Linked DNA regions of Homo sapiens. The gene in region 1 interacts genetically with each later gene. Each region holds a gene or a part of one and is shown on either strand. Other genes may lie near its edges.

Region 1 (3,500 bases):
CCAACACTGATGTTCTTTCTACCTTTCTTCTATACAGCTTTTAATGTGGATGAGTTTGAGTGTCCCTGACTGATATTAAGCAAGCACTGTATAGCCTCACCTTCTGCCATTTGCCTCCTTTTAGCTTCAAAGTTTACACTCCAGTGAGAAATTCTCATATCTGCACCTACCATCCTGCAACTACCATTCCCTCTGGTTGTCCATCTGACAAACTTCTCACCTTCAGAGCTCACCCTAATCTGTGAAATCATCTTGACACCGAAGGTAGGCTTATGGGCTCTTCATCCACGCTCCTACTGTTTTCTATACATGCTACCATTCGAGCAATTCTTGCACTACATTGTATTTTCGGAAGCAAGGCATATTTATCCTCCATTGATGTGTAAGCCTCCTCCTCTATCTCTCTTACAATTTGTTTTCATATAGCCTATCACACTGCTTGGCAAATGAGCAATTAAAATATACTTGTTAGCTGAATGGGTAACTATCTCTAACACAGAATGACAAACATTTTATCCCTCTGATGCCCTTTCATCAGTTCCAATTTTCAGGCCTTTGCTGATACTTATTTCCTGTCCTACATGATCATTTCCTATGTGCCTGTCCATTTATCCAAAATCGATATGAACTAAAATTAATTCTTTTTTTTTTTTTTTTTTGGCAGAGTCTTGCTCGATTGCCCATGCTAGAGTACAGTGGTGTGATCTCGGCTCACTGGAACCTCCACCTGCCGGGTTCCAGTGATTCTAGTGCCTCAGGCTCCTGAGTAGCTGGGACTACAGGCATGCGCCACCACACCTGGCTAATTTTTGTATTTTTAGTGGAGACAAGGTCTTGCTATATTGGCCATGTTGGTCTTGAACTCCTAACCTCAAGTGATCCACCTTTCTCGGCCTCCCAAAGTGCTGGGATTACAGGTGTCAGCCACCATACCCAGCCCTAAAACTAATTCTTAATTCTTTCTCCCCAATGATTCTAAAGCCTAATTCTTCTTTCCGGTATTCCCAAATCTAACACACATTCATTAGGCTCTAACATCACAATGCATTTGGCATTCTAGTCTAGTCTTCCCAGAACAAGTTCAAATCTGAACTACTCAACAGGTAATTTTCCTTGTTTTCAAGCTCTCCTTTCAGTAAAAAGTTGAGCAACTAGAGAAATATTAAGTATTCATTGAGAAGTATTCTCCTAGGAACATGTATGTACCCACATGTACACATATATACACACACACATATATTACACATACTTCCACCCTTTCTTCCTTTTCCAGTGCTTTGGTGAAAAGCCTTAGAGTTATCCTTGAGTCCTCCCTTTGTCTTCTACTTCACATGCATACTATTAGCAAATTCTCTCAACAGTAGCATGAAAATACACCCAGAATCTGACCACTTCCCACTACCTTTACTGACCTCAATCTGTTCCAAGGCATTCTCATCTGTCTGAATTATAACAACTGGCCTCATGCAGAATTCTATCCTTACCTACAACAAAGTTGTCTTCTAAAAATCAGGTAACCATGTAATTTATTGACCCATTCAAATCACAACTTAGCAAGAAAGGGGAAGCTATTACACGTGGTCAACCCATCTGAAATGGAAGTCAGATCATGTCCTTCTTTTGCTCAAAACCTGCCAATGGCTTCTGAGCTCGAGTAAAAGCCAAGGTCTTCTGATGGCTCCCAAGACCTGCCAGATCTGTGAAGGCATACCTACCTCACCTCTTGTCACTTTCCCCTTAGTGGGTCTGTCTCAGCTCTTCTATACTTGCTATGCTCTCTTCTTGGAATGCTCAAGCCCCAGACAGCTGCATTGCCCCTTCAATTCCTTCACAGATGGCTCAAGTATCATCACATTGAAACCTACCCTGAACAGCTTATTCGAAATAAAACAGTAAGCCCATCCATCCCTCATCTTGCTTTTTTCCATAGGACCTACCATACATTACTTGTTGTCTATTTTTTTTTTCTACTAGGATGTAAGCTCCATAACAGTGGGATGTTTGGTTCACTGCTGTATCCCTGGCACCTAAAAAAATGACTGGTACATAAGAGTTGCTCAATGAATGTTTGTTGGGTGAATAAATTGACCAGGGGCCATTTATAACTAAGAAAGTGTCCAAAAAATCAGACTTTCTTACTTGACAAGAGAGGTACCATATTTACCTGGCTGGCGAGCTCCCTGAAGGGCCTCTTGATCATCCCTCCTCACACGCTCCAGATGCTAATCAGTGCAAAGGAGACAGAATGGCTTTGTAACCACTAAGCTTGCTCCAGAGATCTGGAAACTGGTAGTCTATAACGGAGGAGTCTTTGCAGTAGTTGGAGCTTAGGGTTGCCCATGGTTCCATTTCTTTGGGTGGGAAGGGCTGATTTGGTCTGTTACAGTCAGATCTCTCTCCTGGTTAAGGACTATCAATGACCCTGGACAGTTTGGAGGGGGGTTCTATGGTCTTCTGGTGTAGCAGCAGACTTTGGTACTTCTCATCCTGGTTTAAACACACTAAACTGGATGACAGTTTTGCTCTTAGCACCTGGCAGGTATCAAATGTCTTCATTCTTAAATATGCATGTGACAGACATAATCCACTATAACTCTATATGCTACAAGTTAAGACTTTTTGACAGAAAGCAGGTCAGTCTTTGAGGTTCAAGTGGCAGATGAAACTCAAGGATTCCATTAAAGTGATGGTTCTTTGCATGAACAGGGAATCTTCTACTTTGGCCCACTCATCATATTGATATGAATGTTATGTTCTGATGAAGAAAACTTTGGCTTTTTGGGAAGCAGGGGGGAATATATTTTTTTTTTTTTCAAATAAGAAAATGAAGTATAAAATGGTATTCAATGAGAACAAATCTTTTAAATCAAATTAAAATCTACCTAATTGCTAACTAAGGGAGTAGAAGAGAAGGAGAGAGTCATGGGGTAAAGGAAGTACCAGAACATAACCTGTAACATAACCAGGAGCAGGTACAGAGGTTAGTGGCAGGGAGGGGGAGAGAGAGAGAGATTTTGTGGGAGAGTTTAAGCTAGCGTCTGAGCACCAGAACTTCAACCATAGCTGAGTGTTCTTTTTTGTCTGGGAGGGTGTCATTTCAGTTCTAATTTCTCAAAGCAACAGAAATATTAGAAATTTTCATAATTATTAAATAGTATATGCAACTGTATTGAAAAATGTGTATTGTTGCTTTTTAAAAATTTTTGTTTTTTAGACCAAGTCTTGTTCTGTCTCCCAGGCTGGAGTGCACTGGCACAATCTCGGCTAACTGCAACCTCTGTCTCCTGGCTTCAAGCAATTCTCCTGCCTCAGCCTCCCGAGTAGCTGGGACTACAGGCATGTGCCACCATACATGGCTACTTTTTTTGTATTTTTACTAGAGATGGGGTTTCACCATTTTGGTCAGGTTGGCCTCGAACTCCTGACCTCTAATGATCCACCCACCTCGGCCTCCCAGAAGACCAGGGTTCTGTGGTCTTCTGGTGTAGCAGCAGACTTTG
Region 2 (3,500 bases), on another chromosome or scaffold:
TGCCCACCTGAAAGGGCAGGAAGATGGGTTCAGCTGCTCACAGGAATGGGCTGACTTTGCTGGGCTTATCTAAATTCCTGGGGCTGATATCCCAGGGTGGGAATGAAGTGATGGCGGAGGGGGGGGCAGGCATTTCCTCAGTAGCTCCTCTACCCATATTCCATCTCAGCCTTGCCCTTAACCTTTCTGGGCCAAGGCCTCTTTCAGGAGGCTGATGAAAGCTCTGGGCCCCTCCCTACAAACAGGTACCTTTATGCCATATGCAGAAATTCTGCCTGCAATTTCTGGGGGTTCTCAGCTATACAGGACTTGCTTGTTGTCTTCTCCCCTCCTGACAAGTCTTTCAGATGAAAGGGTTCTCCCCAAGGTGAGGAGGGCAGGGAATGCCAGGTGCCCATAAAAAGGCGGGCTGGGGTCTGAGGAAAGGGTGGAAGATCCAGCCCCCAGAAGTCAGGTGAGCTGAGTGCTAAGCAGTCAGGAGGGAGGAGGGCAAAGTGGGGTGGTGAGTAGGTAATCCCCTGGGCCCTGGGAACCAAGGTGCACAGGTCAGACCCGGAGAAATGGAGGAAGGGCTGAGGGTTGTGAAGCCAGAGGTTTGTGGAAAAAAGGATTTTAGCGGCAGAGTCTCTCCTCCCCAGGGGACAGCTGGTCAGGTACCTGTTTATAGACACTGGCAGGAAGCTCCTGCTCATATGGGCTTGGGTCTGCCCTAAACAGCCTGCCCTACCCCAGGGCCTTCTCTTTGGCAGTTCCTGTGCACCCAGCCAGCCTTCTGGACCCCACAGTTCCACTCACCTTGAAGAGGGGCGTGAGGACAACGGCCCCAGCATTGCCGAACTCGAAGGCGGTCAGCAGCTGGGGCAGCACCTTGTGCCGACAGAAATCCTCAGGGAATGCGTCCAGGCTCTTGCTCAGCTCCTGGAAGAATTTTTGCTTCTCGGCTGGCTCTTTGATCTGGGGGAGTGAGGACGGGACCCGGGGAAGAGATCAGCCTGGTTGCAGCCCAAACCCAGCCATGGGTGAGGACAAGGAGAAGTGATGCTTATGGGCCTTATGGGCTCTGGAGCCTGGCTGCCTGGGTTCAAAGCCCAACTGTCCCACTTACCTGCCATGTAAAATGGGATAACAGCTCTACCATCTACGGGATAGTTCTGGGATTCAACCAGAAAATGCACATAAAAGCTGCAGAACAGGCTGGCACACGGCAGATGCTCGGTGGGTTAGGGACTGTTGCTGCCATTGCGGCTACCTGACCTGTTGCTGGGAGAGCAGCCACTAGGGACAGCAGAGGCATCACTAAGGGCATCAGGCCCTTTATCAGTGTTGCCTCTACTGCTCGCCACCCAGGATGTGAGCACAGAGGAGGAAACTGAAGATCAAAGAGGTGAAGGGGCTTACTTGGTTTCCCTGCCCTGGCTGGATTGGGCAGGAAGTTCCTGGTAGGCCGTGGGAAGGCAAGGATTAGGTACACTTTACTCCCAGACCTCATCCTCCCACTGAGCCAAAATGGACCAGCCTGTAAGCTCAACGGTCTCCTTTAGTCCTCCTAACCCCCCTTTGAGGCCATAATACCCCCAATTCATATTTCTGGAGCACAGATTATGTGCTAAAACCTTTACACAGATTATCTCAGTCCTCTTCACAACTTTACCAGGTAGGTGCTAATGTAATCCACATTTTACCAACAAGGAAGCTGAGGCACAGAGAGGGCAAGGAGCTTGTCCAAAGTCACACAGCTAAGAAGCGGTCAGAGGAGGGTCTGACTCACTGGTTTGGCACCTCTCCTGTGCTGTACCCTTCAAAAGATGCTGTCACTCCCCCCATTCACAAAGGAGGAGACAGAGGGTCAAGGTCAGCAGCCAAGAGTGGCCAGGCAGGGGTCATGACCCAGTGTTGTGTTCCAAAGTCCCTGTGCTCTCTGTTGTACCACCACCCCCATAGCCGCGGCTTGGCCGGGGAGAGGCGACCTCTGGCTTGGGACAAAGAGGACCTAGATGGCCCTTGAGCAGCTCAGACCAGCGTGGGAGGCCGGCTTGGTGCTCTGATCACATGGTTCAGCGGGGCCAAGGCCCAGAGAGGCTAAATCACATCCAAGGTCATACATCAAGAGAGTAGCAGCTGGGTTCTCCCCACCACTCCACCTAACAATGGGAAGAGGGGCCCCTGGGCACTGCCCTCCCATGTTCTCCTGGAGGCTCCCGAAACCCTATTTCCTATGGGGTACACTTTAAGGAGAAGGGTAGCTTGGCAGAGCCAGCCGTACGAGGAGAACTCCACGTAACAAAGTTCCTGCTGCCCCGACACTGCCCAGGAGGCAACGGGGTCTCAGCGTTTCCAGCAGCTTCTCCTTCCAGGTTTCCACCCTCCAAAGGCCCTCCCCGCCCCACAGCATCTGAGTCAAGATTCCATGACCTCTGCTGGGTCAGGGTCTGTGGAGTGTCTGCCACTCTCCTCCCCTGCTCCTGATTCTGATTCTCAGCCCCCGCTGTCTTCCCCACACACGGCTGGGGCCGGGCATTGCATAGAGCAGAGCCTTCCTCCCTCCTCCCTACAGCAACCCTGCAGGCCAGTGCACCCAGATGCTCCTCACTATACACATGTGGAAACCAAGGTTCAGAGGCAAAGCAGAGGGCTCCCTCCTCAGTATCTCTCCACGTGCTGTCGCCTCTGCCTGGAACTCTTACTCCAGGTACCATCCCTCTGGCTCCCACAGTCATGTCCTTCAGGCCCCAGCTCCAATGTCACACTTCAGAGAGCCCATCCCTGAATACCCACTCCAGTACTTTCCTTCCTGCACTGGATTTTTCTTTTCTTTTTTTTTAAGACTGAGTTTTGCTCTTGTTGCCCAGGCTGGAGTGCAATGGTGCGATCTCGGCTCACTGCAACCTCCTGCCTCCCAGGTTCAAGCTATTCTCCCGCCTCAGCCTCTGGAGTAGCTGGGATTACAGGTATGCGCCACCATGCCTGGCTAGTTTTTTGTATTTTTAGTAGAGACGGGGTTTCTCCATGTTGGTCAGGCTGGTCTCAAACTCCTGACCTCAAATAATCCGCCAGCCCCGGCCTCCCAAAGTGCTGGGTTTACAGGCGGGAGCCACCGCACTGGCTGGTTTTCTTATTTATGGTGTTCTTTTGTTTGTTTTGAGACGGAGATTTGCTCTTGTTGCCCAGGCTAGAATGCAATGGCACAATCTTGGCTCACTGCAACCTCCACCTCCCAGGTTCAAGCGATTTTCCTGCCCCAGCCTTCCTGAGTAGCCGGGATTACAGGCATGTGCCACCACTCCCGGCTAATTTTTGTACTTTTAGTAGAGATGGGGTTTCTCCATGTCGTCAGCTGGTATCGAACTCCCGACCTCAGGTGATCCACCCGCCTCAGCCTCCCAAAGTGCTGGGATTACAGGCGTGAGCCACTGCACCTGGCTCTTATTTATGGTTTTTATGTTTTCTGTCTCTTCCCCAGCAAGAGTTCCCAAGGTTGGGGATCTGGTCTGTTTACTTTT

Evidence for each region.
Region 2: changes in BOD1L1 (region 1) and SCYL1 together harm fitness more than expected from each alone (negative genetic interaction), as found in Homo sapiens cells (one large-scale study listed by BioGRID).

What each region holds. Positions count from the first base shown.
Region 1 is NC_000004.12:13,621,226-13,624,725, forward strand, and holds part of BOD1L1 (biorientation of chromosomes in cell division protein 1-like 1), read right to left. Parts: intron 1-3,500. UniProt on the Homo sapiens protein: Component of the fork protection machinery required to protect stalled/damaged replication forks from uncontrolled DNA2-dependent resection.
Region 2 is NC_000011.10:65,528,083-65,531,582, reverse strand, and holds part of SCYL1 (N-terminal kinase-like protein), read right to left. Parts: intron 955-3,500; coding exon 796-954; intron 8-795; coding exon 1-7. UniProt on the Homo sapiens protein: Regulates COPI-mediated retrograde protein traffic at the interface between the Golgi apparatus and the endoplasmic reticulum. Involved in the maintenance of the Golgi apparatus morphology.